Linked DNA regions of Homo sapiens: region 1 is linked to region 2. A link means that fine-mapping ties the variant in region 2 to the expression of a gene that starts in the linked region. Tissue or cell type: hypothalamus. Region 2 holds a variant in brackets; the other region holds the start of a gene. All regions are shown on one strand. Distances are between the middles of the regions.

Region 1 (4,000 bases), 220 kb before region 2:
TCAATTTCTTGGTATGTACCTAGAGAAATGCAAATATGTTTACAATTAGAATGTACAAGAATTCCTTTCTAGTATTTTTAAAGGGAGCAAACTAAAAGTCCATCAACAGGAGGATGCATACATAATATGTGGTAAATTCATGCAAGAATCACCACACAACAGTTCAAATGAATGACCTGCAACACGTACAGCATAACCATTCTATCAACTTAAAAAGTAACAGTAGGCCGGGCGCGGTCCTCATGCCTGTAATCCCAGCACTTTGGGAGGATCACGAGGTCAGGAGTTCGAGACCAGCCTGGCCAACTTGGTGAAACCCCCTCTCTACTAAAAATACAAAAAAAAAAAAAAAAAATTGGCCAGTTGTGGTGGCAGGCACCTGTAATCCCAGCTACTCAGGGGGCTGAGGCAGGAGAATCGCTTGAATCTGGGAGGCGGAGGTTCCGGTGAGCTGAGATCATGCCATTGCACTCCAGCCTGGGCGACAAGAGCGAGACTCCGTCTCAAAAAAAAAGTATACATTGGTTTAGGATAAACATATGAGTAGTAAAAGTATAAAAATATGCAGAATATAAGTAAATGCTAAATTCTGTTGGTTAATAGGGATAGGTAAGGAGAGAGGGGAATGGGATTTCCAAGGGTTACATAACAGACCTTAATTGTGCCTGTAATCGATTTTTTGTTGGTTTAAGTTTGGACTGGGTACATGGATTCACCCCTGGGTTCACTCTACTTATTGTGTGAAGTATTTTATTTTAAAGAAGAAAAAAGTAGAATATTTTGTCAGTTACCTCAAAACATTTTCGCCTGTTAGTAAAACTGTATATTTTTTTCACAATAATCAAACAAATAATTTTACCCATTTCCAGGATGTTTATTTCTCTACAATACTATATACATCCAGGAGAAAACATAAAGGGGTTTGGTCTAAACTGCCCAAACACAAGCGAAAGCTTTGCAGCCAAGCTAAACAGAAACGACTTTGGGCGGTGAGAGAACAGCTTTGATCTGAATTTAAGGAGCTCGGTCTACAAGACCAGGTGATTGAACTCTCCTCCCCGTGGCTGCAGATCTGAAGGCTCGGCTATTGAAGCAGAGGGGGACGAGGAACAGCGTGCGGGGCGGCCAGCACCGCAGTGGAAAGGCACAGCGCTGCTAACGGGTAATTATTAGAATTAAGAAATTAAACGAATTAGCACAGTGTCGGGGGTTCGGATGCCCCTTCCCTGGGCATCCCTTGAAAACCCTTGAAAAGCATCAGAAAGGTAAATTACGAGGAAACCAACGTCTGGGTGGGAGGTGCCTGTGGATTTGTACGGTTTTTATTTGGAAGGAAAAGTGAAGATCGCGGGGAGGAATTGCAGGGTGTCCGCGACCTCCCGCGATCCTGAGGCGAGAAGTTGGAGTCCTGGTTGGCGAAGGGGGATCCTTTGGGGTAGTCCTAGAGGCAGGCTAGAGTCAGCGAGACCACTCACCTGTCGGCGGATGCCCGGCGAGGGGCGGGAAGGGGCTGTGGGAGGAAGGGGTCGCAGCCTACCACCTGCAGCCCTCGACTGGGGCCCAGACCAGTCTGGCCCTGGCCCCGCCTTTCCTATCTGTGACGATAGCAGCGCCTGAGGGCCACTCAGCGGCCGCCCCGGCCGGCTCGCCGGAGCTGACTGGCCAGTTATAGGAGAGGCGGGAGCTGTCAGGCCAGGAGGGAAACCCGTCGGGCGGCGGTTACTATGGACGCGCTCACGCTTAGTAACCGAGGCTCCCCGCCCTCCGGGAGACCTCCTTGGTTTGGGAGGTGAAAGGGGTGAAGAGTAGCCCAAGGGAGAGGCCTCGGTGATTTCCCGACCTCTCCTGTGAAGCCTGATTCGGAACTCTTCCAGCTGCGAAGAACTTGGCCGATTCTAAGGCACATCAGGGCTGCCTGGAACCCTAACACCTGCCTAGGTGTTGACAAGCCCCCACCTTTCCTGACCAGCCTCTCTTCTCTCCAGCAGAGCTTCTCCTGTGACAGAATTATCTAGTGTTCCTTCCCTGCTTCCTCACTCTAAGAAAATGGTTTGGGCTTTCCCTCTCTCTCTTCAGCAAATATTTCCGTAAACAGCAGCCCGTACTGTTTCTTCCAGGTGCTGGCCCACATTTTTACATACATACATCATTGCTCATCCATGCAACCTCTTTCCAAACCTGTAAGAGGGGTTTATATTGTACAGATGAAGAAACTGAAGTTCGAGAAGTTAATTGACTTAGACAATGTGACTCAGTGGCAGAGCTAACACTAAAACTCAAATCAGTCAAACTTCAAGGCATCTTTCCATGAGGCAGCAGTCTAACCGTGTGAGCAGCAAGAGAATTCACCGAGTTACTTTGGTAACTAGTAATGCTAAAGAAAATAAAGCCCTCAGTTAATTATTTTTGGCTTTTCTGGGAATCACTGTGTGGCACTCCACCCAAGGACGAGGCGGAGGGACTTGCCAGGATAAGGCAGGCTGCCCAGCCCCTAGGAGACCTCAATGAAGTGACTTCAAGTCGGGGGCTGGTCCTCAGCTTTGCCAATTCAGACTCTTGGTTATGCCAGTGTCCCGAGTTTATTAGAGGCTGACTCAGGCCAACCGAACTCATGGGAACCTAATCTAGAAAAGTTAGAATGCTGCCTCAAGTGTTTACATTAAGCAACACGACCCCTCTAACTGTGGAGATGAGCCCAGAGTATTTTCCCCAAAGAGGAAAACCACAGAAAACACCCAGTGCTCAGAGGCTACTCATTTGCCTAGACACAAGACTAGACAAGGCTCCCATACCCGACACCAGGGCACTGCAAATCCTGACTAGTTTTCCCACTATGTTCCTTATCAGCAACTTTTTCTACATTCGGCCTAAGAAACATTTCACTCTGAGCTGTCTTTTTTTATTACTTTTTTCTCATGCATAGTGTTCTGCATTTTGTATTTTCAGTATTCAGCACGGGCTTTGCAGATGCCTAGAATCCGTAGACAATGCAGCAAATGATGCCATGTTTGTTCTTTGGGCCAAAAGACTGGCAACTGTTCTAAAGTAGATCTGATTGCCCACAAACTCTTTAAAGATGATGAGCAGTCTTTGTGCTTTGCACACATCTAGATGCCCAATAGCATTGCTAATTGAAGACAAAATTCATTCAATGTCTGATTTAAAAATAAACAGGTGAAATTATAGCAGAATTTGATCTTTTCAATGATACATTGAGTCAGTGAATTTCAAAAACCTCCTGATTAAAATTTCAGGTTAAATTGATCAACTCTGTTCTCCATAGAAAGGATTGAATGATGTTTTGGAAATAATTTAGATACCCTCTCAAAAAAAATTGTCTCATGATTATCAAGTCTTTGCCAGAATTGAGGTTAATGCTTGCCCTTCAGTTTTACAGTACGATAGAGACCTCCTACAATGCTTATTAAAAAAAATAAAGCAAGACCACTAGGATTCAGCTATTCAACCTTACTTTCTCAGCAGCTCCACAAGTTCAGGAATGTGTCTGTTTCTGTTCATCTCTGTATCCCCAGCATGGGGCTTCCTACCTGCCATGAAAGAGGGACTCAGTCAATGTTTGTTAAATGAAAGCATGAAGTGTGATGTTTAGTGGGGTAGGAAACTATCAAAGATACAGAAGTGGAGAAGCAATAAAGCAGACTTTGCCTATTTTATAACTTTGCCTTAGTCATTTTCATAACTTGAAGTCATTTTTATAACTTCCTTAGCTGCTACATTTTCACTCTATTTAGAGTCACCAAACCTCCTCTCCAGTCTTTCTGAGCCTTCCTATCACTCAACCATCGCCCTTCATCAAGATGCTATCAGCCCCTTTGAGCTGTCTATCCTTATCAGAAATCAAGTGTGGGCCTAGCCATCTTCACCCCTGGACTTCCACCCCCGTTCCCATCCTCACAGTGACTCACGTCCACAGCCTGCTTTCTCCATTTCTCCTCCAGCACTAAAGTTAATCATCACATTCTTCCTATTCCCCTGACCT
Region 2 (8,562 bases):
CTATCATCTAGAGTCCATATTTAATATTTTATTATGCTTACTTATCTATTTATTATGTACCTATCTATCCATCCATCCATCTCTCTAATCATTGTTCTTGAGTTTGAAACCATTTCTTACACTCCTTTCTATCCCCTACAGCAGGGTGTCTCAACCTTGGCACAACTGACATTTTGGGTCAGGTAGTTCTTTGTTGCAGAGGGGCCGTCCTGTGTGTTAGGATATTTAGCAGCATACCTGCCCTCTAGCCACTAGATGTCAATAGCACACTCCTCCCACCTCCAGTCATGACAACCAAAAACAATTTTGGACACTGACAAATATTCAGTGGGTGGCAAGCTTGTCTCTGGTTGAGAAACACTGCCTTAAAGCATCCATAGGAGCCTTTTCAAAAGGTAGGTATTTTTTAGGTATTTGTGGACAAACTACACTGGGGCCTTATCTAGAAATTATATACAACACACCTACAGGTAAGCCTGAAGCAAAACCCATGGTATGGATTAGAAGCAACATTGTAGGGTCTATGGTTGCTAGTCACATTTGTTTGTTTATTTGACTTTAAAGCTGATGTAGGTTAGAATATGGCACAGAAAAATCAGCAGCACAGTAACCTACATGTCTCATCTTGTATTGTCAAAGGGAAAAAATGAAAAAAAAAAAAAAAAACTACATGCAATTTGATATATCTAGCACTTCAACACAGATGAGGTTTGAAGTAACAAAAGATTAACAATAATGCAAAATGCTGTCATATTTTTATACATCATTTTCATATTAAATATAATTTTAAAATAAAAACAATCAAAATTACCTTCACTGCCCAAAAGTCACACGACAACAACAAGATAATTGTAACCATACAGGTAATAAAGCTGCTGCTGAGCAACTCACAGAGAAGACAGACGATGATTGCACTGACTCGAAAGAATAAGTGGAAAAACGATGCTACTGGATGTCTGAAAACCAAAACACAATGAAAGAAATGCAATTACATTTTACTACAGGTACTAGCAAATGTAGAGAAAAATGTTTTAGCCATCGTGTAACTGTGAAGAGTTTTGTCAAAATAAAAGAGGTGACTTTAGTAGGAGGAAGCAAACCTCCTAGCTCTCTTTTTCTTAAGCCCCACTATTTGACTAGGCCCTATAGTGACAGAAAATACACTATGCACAGATGACTTTAACACCTCATTGAATATAAACTTTCACAAAATAGATAATAAAGAATTTTACCTCTCTTGGAGAAATAAGGAAACCGTATCTTAGAATTTGAATCCTATTTTCAAATCACGCCAAAAGAATTCCTTAGCCCTCAGAAATCACTCAGACATTAAGACAAAGTTATCAGGTAGTTTGTTTGTTTCTTTTTTTTTTTTTTTTTTTGAGACGGAGTCTCGCTCCGTCGCCCAGGCTGGAGTTTGGTGGCGCAATCTCGGCTCACTGCAAACTTCACCTCCTGGGTTCACGCCATTGTCCTGCCTCAGCCTCCCAAGTAGCTGGGACTACAGGCGCCTGCCACCACGCCCGGCTAATTTTTTGTATTTTTAGTAGAGATGGGGTTTCACCATGTTAGCCAGGATGATCTCAATCTCCTGACCTCGTGATCCACCTGCCTCGGCCTCCCAAAGTGCTGGGATTACAGGCGTGAGCCATCGCGCCCAGCCTGTTTCTTGTTTTTTAATAGCTTTTTTGAGATATAATTCACATATCATACAATTTACTTATTTAAGGTAAACAATCTAATGGTTTTTAGTACATTCACAGATTTGTACAACCATCACTCCAATTTTACAACTTTTCATTACCCCAGACAGAATCTTTGCACCCACTGGCAGTCATTCCCCATTTACCTTCAAACCCCTCAGCTTCTAGCAACAGCTAATCTATCTTCTGTCTCTACAGATTTGCCTATTCTGGACATTTCATATAAATGAAATCATACAATATGTGGTCTTTTGTGACTGGCATGAAAGATGAAAGAAAAGTAAAAAACAGCATTTTAGCAGGGTTCAAGTAGAATTTGCTTTCGATAAGTGAATTTATTTAGAGAGAATTAAATTTAGAATAGAAATGTTATGTGATTTTGAAATGTGCACAATAAATCAAAATGTAAAGTATCTACAGAAACTATATAAAGAAATGGTACATTCTTGGAAAATAGCACAGAATTAAAAACACAGGTGTTCAAATAATTGGATTTGCTGATTTTAAAACTCAGTATTAAGTATGCCAATTATTCACAAGAAAATCTGAAATGTCATCTTTGTCTTACACTAAATGTTAAATTAGCAACATGCAGTATTCACAAGCACATTGAAACAACTCTGCCTTGACTCCCATCAGCTAGCACTGACATACATACAGAACAACACTGGACACTAACACAGCTCATGCAACTTCTCCTCCTACCTGATTTTGGCTTTTCTTGGTCTATTAGTCGTCTCCTCTTCCGCATCAAACAGTGAAACATCTTCAGTGTCATCATTACTATCCTGGTTGGAAAAATAAATGGTCAAGAAGCAAAACAAAATTCAGTGTTTACACAGCCACTGCAATGCAAAGCTGCATACTCATCAAAATAGAAGATAAAATAATGTGGTTACAGCATCAGGAATTCAAAACCTAGAAAAGGACACATGCAGATCCTCCACCCGCCTCCTCAAATCATCTGGCAAAAACCCCAGAGAATAATCGAAGTCTCAGCTCCTCCATCCCTGCCCCTAGGCTGCACCATCTGAGAAAACTCTGGGGTGCAGATGAGGCTACTACAACTTAACACCTGTCCTCCTCACCTGTTCTCTCCCAAGTCACAGAGCAAGCCGAGGCTACTGGGGATAATCTCAAGGTTTCTGGCTCCTTCACAAAATCATCTGACTGCATCCTTAGTTCCATGACCCCTTCTCACAACTCCTCCTCTTCTTATCCAAGGCTAAACCAATTATTTGTGCTCAGAATAACTTCTTTTCATGCCTCCTCGGGGATTTGTTTCATCATTTTCCCCTGTATTTACACTTTCTTCTATCTTCAAGTCTATCTATTGGATCTTTCTTTTTTGTTGTTGTTGAAATGGGGTTTTGCTCATCACCCAGGCTGGAGTACAATGGCACGATCTTGGCTCACTGCAACCTCCGCCTCCCGGGTTCAAACGATTCTCCTGCTTCAGCCTTCCAAGTTGCTGGGATTACAGGCGTGTGCCACCACACCCAGCTAATTTTCATATTTTTAGTTGAGACGGGGTTTCACCATGTTGGCCAGGCTGGTCTTGAACTCCTGACCTCAGGTGATCTGTCCGCCTCAGCCTCCCAAAGTGCTGGGATTACAGGCCTGAGCCACCACGCCTGGCCTCTATTGAATCTTTCTAATCAGCATATGCATATAAACTTCTTCAAGGCCACTTATTAGGCAAAAAAAGATTTTTTTAAGAACCCTGATCCTGAATCTCCTCTTCAATCCTCTACCTTCCCAAAGCATTGCTTCCTTTTACCTTAGGCTTTTTTTTTTTTTTTTGAGATGGAGTCTTGCTCTGTCGCTCAGGCTGGAGTGCAGTGGCGTGGCCTCAACTCACTGCAACCTCTGCCTCCTGGGTTCAAGTGATTCTCCTGCCTCACCTTCCCAAGTAGCTGGGACTACAGGCGCGTGCCACCATGCCTGGCTAATTTTTTGTATTTTTTTAGTAGAGACAGGTTTCACCGTGTTAACCAGGAGATTTCATGACCTTGTGATCCACCCGCCTCGGCCTCCCAATTGCTGGGATTACAGGCGTGAGCCACCATGCCCGGCCCCATAACCTTAGGCTTCTAAGAGTGGTTCACACCTCA[A/T]TTCACTGCAATTCCCCTCAACTACAACAAACCTGATCCTGTTCCTCTCCTAGCGCCACTCACCAGCCTCCCTGCCTTTATCCCTCTCTATTCCAGCCTCTCCTTTACATTACCCAGAGCAATCCTCCCAATATGGAAATCACACCATGTCACTCTACTGCTCAAATTTTTCAATGGCATCCCTACAAGTATAGGATAAAATTTAACTCCTTCACATAAAGCATAGAAGATCACAGAATCTAATGCCCCCTACTTGCTTCTGACACTGTCTTCATTGAGCACTGTTGAGCACTGAAGCAATACTGTTACTACATGGTCTCTAAGAACACTACGGTCTCTCTCCCATCTCCTGCCTTTCACATGTTGTCTCAGAAAACTCTTCCCTTCCCCATGCCCTGCTCACCACCAAATACCAAATCATCCTTCAAGTTTTTTAGCTCAAATACTGAAATAGCTGAAAACCTGTCTCTGAAATCCCCATGTTCCCACAGCACTTGGACGAATCTCCATTTGAACAATTATCTCAGAGTATTCTTATTGCACATCTACCCGCTCCTACCTCCATATAGATTAAGCTGCTGGAGGACCTAGAAGACAAGGTTTTTTTTTTTTTTTTTTGAGACAGAGTCTTGCTCTGTCGCCCAGGCTGGAGTACAGTGGTATGGTCTCAGCTTACTGCAACCTCCACCTCCTGGGTTCAAGCTAGATTCTAGTGCCTCAGCCTCCTGAGTAACTGGGATTACAGGAGTGTGTCTCGGCTAATTAGCCTGGCTAATTTTTGTAATTTTAGAAGAGACAGAGTCTCACCACGTTGGCCAGGCTGGTTTCAAACTCCTGACCTCCAGGGATCCGCCCACCTCACCCCCCCATAGTGCTGGGATTATAGGTGTGAGCCACCACGCCCAACCAAGACTGTCTTTGCATTGTAGTAAATCCTAGTGTCTAGCAGAGCATTCAGCCAAGTGGTACAGTATTTGTTGAAGGCATGAGTAAATAAGCAAAGGAGACGATAATATACAGCTGACTGTGATCAGGGCTGAGAAATCTAAGTGCAAATGGGAGCCAGGGAAGGAAGCAAATCATTCCTACTACAGGGCACTGGAGAAGCTTTCTGGAGGAGAGTTTGTCAGCTGGGCCCTGACAGTCCGCGTAGGCCTCCCTAGACTAGGTATATTTTGAAAGGCACAGGTGGGAATACAGGAAGTTTGTCTAAGAAATGGTCAAGTAGCTCATGCAGTAAGTGATGGATGCGAGAAGCTCCTACTGAGCTAAGGCTGAAAAGGTAAAATGGATTCAGATCTATGAAACTAGTGGTTCTCAACCTTGGCTACAATTAGAATGCTCTTTTTCTTAAAAAACAAACAAACAAACAAAAAAAGGCTGATACTTGGGTCCAGCCCTCAGTGGTTCAGATATAATTGCTTTGAGGTGTGATCATAACGTACAGCAAGACTGAGATCCACCGTATGATGTTATGAATAAAAAGCTGAGGCCTTCTGCTCTCGATCCCAACAGTCTAATCGCCATCCAGCGGCCAGGGAGACTTTTTCACATCAAATCCTATCATTCCCCTACTGAAACCTCTCAGCACTATGACTGAAAAACAGACTCCCTATCATGACCTATCATGATCTGGTCCCTGCCAATCTCTAAGACCTTATCTCAGGCCACTCACTCTTCATTAACTGTGGTAGGCTGAATACCTCCTCACCCCTCCCAAAAATGTTTAGGTTCTAATCTCTGGAACCTGTGAATATGTAAATTTACTTGGCAAAAAGAATTTCACAGATGAGATTAAGTTAAGGATCTTGAGGTCAAGAGATCATCCTGGATTACCCAGGCTGGTCAGATGACATGATTACAATGGTCCTTACAAGGGAAACAAAGGAGGGTCAGTGAGAGAAGGTGATGAAACAAGCAAAGTAGAGGTGAGAGACAGAGATTTGAACAGGCTGTGCTGATGGCATTAAGATGGGGAAGGGATCCCAGGTGTTTAGAAGCTGAATCAGGCAAGGAAACTGATTCTCCAGAACCCCTACCCACACCTTGATGTTTAACCCCTTGAGCCTCATTCTGGACTTCTGACCACCAGAACTTTACAACAGTACATATGACTTCACTGCCGCAGTAGCAACAGGAAATTTATACAGTACCTAAGCTCCTGCCAGACTGGCCATTTTTTTTTTTTTTTTTGACACAGGGTCTGGCTCTCGCCCAGGCTGGAGTGCAGTGGAACAATCAGGGGTCACTACTGCAGGCTCTACATCTCAGCCTCCTGAGTACTGCAAGCCACCATATCTAATATTTTAATTTCTTGCAGAAATAGGGTCTCGTTATGTTGCCCAGGCTAGTCTCAAACTCCCGGGCTCAAGCAATTCTCCTGCCTTAGCCTCCCAAAGTGCTACGATTAGAGGCATGAGCCACCATGCCCAGGCTGGCCTTCTTTTCAGTTCCTTAAACATGCCAAACTTGGGCCCCGTCAGGTTCTTTTGCACTTATGGTTCATATTACCTAGAACACTATTCTCTTACCCTGCTCTTTGAAAGACTGATTTCTTCTCATTTATTCAGTAAATACTGAGTGCCTACCAAGTGCCAGGTACTGCTGTAAGTGGTACAGATTTAAAAAAAAAAAAAAAAAAAAAAAGACAAATAGCTCTGCACTCCTGGAGTTACATTTACTAAGATGGGGAAGACCATGGACACAAAAGATTTCGGGGCAAAATCAGCAGTTTGATTTTGGACATTTTAAGATGCTAAACGACATTTTAAGATGCTAAAACCAAAAAAGCATTGAAAGGGAGATCCATTGGAGTGTTTTAAGTGTAAGACTGCATGTTCTGACTCACCTGTTAGAAAGAGAATTCTGGCTACTGTAGTAAAAATCTGGAGGGGGAGGGGAGAAGAAGGAGGGACAAAAGCACAACGCTAGGAGACTGGTTAGGAAACTACTTTAATCACGAGGCCAAGAAGTAGTGGCTTGGTCTAAGATGGATGCAGTGGAGGTGATGAGAAATAGATTCCAAGTACATTTTAAGGTAGAGCTGACAGGATTTGCTGATGGACTGACTGACTGGGGAGGTGGAGGAAGGGTAAATAAAAGGAATCAAGGAAGATTCCAAAGTTTTTGTCCTGAACAACTAAAAAGATAAAGATGGCTAAGACAGACTCCTGGCATTCCAATAATTAGAGATCACAAAGATAAGAAGGAATAGGCTGTGGGGACTGAAAAAGAAGTACCAAGGAACATAAGGTGAGCCAGGAGGGGGTAGTGTCCTGGAAACCAAACAAAGTGCCTCCAGGAGGAGGATCCATCATCTGTGTCAAATGCTACTCATAAGTAAGATGAAAACCAAAGAGAGACCACTGTATTTTTTTTTCTTTTTTTTGAGACGGAGTCTCGCTCTGTCGCCAGGCTGGAGTGCAATGGTGTGATCTTGGCTCACTGCAACCTCCGCCTCCCGGGTTCAAGGGACTCCCCTGCATCAGCCTCAGCCTCCCGAGTAGCTGAGACTACAGGCACATGCCACCACCCCCAGGTAATTTTTGTATTTTTAGTAGAGACGGGGTTTCACCATGTTGGCCAGGATGGTCTCCATCTCTTGACCTCATGATCCACCCACCCTGGCCTCCCAAAGTGCTGGGATTACAGCCATGAGCCCTGCGCCCAGCCATGACCACTGTATTTTTAACAGGTCATCGGGGAACTCAGTAAGAGCAGTTCCAGTACAGTTGGGAGAGGGGAAGAGAGACTGACTAGAATGAATACAAGAGAGACTGGAAGAATTAAAAGACAAGTATATATGATACAAGTCTTTAAAGGAAAAAGAATGGAGTGACCAGTGAAAGAGCATGTGGTGTCAAGTTTGTTTTTTTTGTTTGTTTGTTTGTTTTGAGACGGAGTCGCCCAGGCTGGAGTGCAGTGGCACGATCTCGGCTCACTGCAAGCTCCGCCTCCCAGGTTTACGCCATTCTCCTGCCTCAGCTTCCCGAGTAGCTGGGACTACAGCTGCCCACCACCACCCCTGGCTAATTTGTTGTTTTTCAGTACAGACGGGGTTTCACCGTGTTAGCCAGGATGGTCTCGATCTCCTGACCTCGTGATCCACCCGCCTCGGCCTCCCAAAGTGCTGGGATTACAGGTGTGAGCCACCGCACCCGGCCAAGTTTTCATTTTTTAAGGTAAGAGAAATTAAAACACGTTTATATGTTGATGTGAGCAAACGTTTAAAAGGATTAAAAAACTGATGATGCAAGAAAGAGAATTACTAGAACAATGCCTTCCAGTAGGCAAGAGGAGATGGAAACCAGGACACAGTAGACAGGAAGACCTAAGAATGGAGCACTGACAGTCCAATTATCATAAAAGAATATGAGACCCTGAGTAAACATGCAAATAAATAGGCAGCTAGTGTGAAAATTGTCTTCCGACGGCTTCCATTTTCAGTGAAACAAGAAGCAACGTTACCAGCTGAGAGAGGATAAGAGAAGAAACGTTGAAGATTTGAGTTTTAATAGTTGCCTAAGGCGAGAGGGTGAAGGGGCTATGGAAATGTAGAATGACCGCCTGGCAGCACTAAGGGCTCGACTGAGGTTCACATCACAAACTTATCAAGTGGGAACAGTCGGCCGGGCCTGGCGGCTCACGCCTGTAATCCTAGCACTTTGGAAGGCCGAGGCGGGTGGATAACCTGAGGTCAGGAGCTCAAGACCAGCCTGGTTAATATGGTGAAACCCCATCTCTAC

Direction of the effects. Positions count from the first base shown, and alleles are read on the strand shown. Sizes are in standard deviations (SD) of each study's normalised expression.
For the expression in hypothalamus of the gene that starts at base 1,555 in region 1, allele A in region 2 goes with a higher level than allele T (moderate effect, 0.41 SD a copy in GTEx).

What was found. PIP is the estimated chance that this variant, and not a neighbour inherited with it, causes the effect.
Region 1: it holds the start of TEKT3, and the variant in region 2 is fine-mapped to the expression of TEKT3 in hypothalamus (GTEx, PIP 0.93). The same link has a PIP of 0.9 or more in nucleus accumbens.

What each region holds. Positions count from the first base shown.
Region 1 is chr17:15,340,043-15,344,042 of GRCh38, forward strand. It overlaps TEKT3 (tektin 3), which reads right to left and starts at 1,555. Exons shown (of 9, transcript NM_031898.3): 1 at 1,476-1,555; 2 at 1-19.
Region 2 is chr17:15,552,874-15,561,435 of GRCh38, forward strand. TVP23C-CDRT4 (TVP23C-CDRT4 readthrough) reads right to left here. Exons shown (of 6, transcript NR_037924.2): 2 at 2,409-2,491. TVP23C (trans-golgi network vesicle protein 23 homolog C) reads right to left here. Exons shown (of 6, transcript NM_001135036.2): 2 at 2,409-2,491; 3 at 812-956. Among named protein-coding and RNA genes, the nearest start is that of TVP23C, 6.3 kb to the right of the region's middle. The variant A/T (reference allele first, on the strand shown) is at 3,818.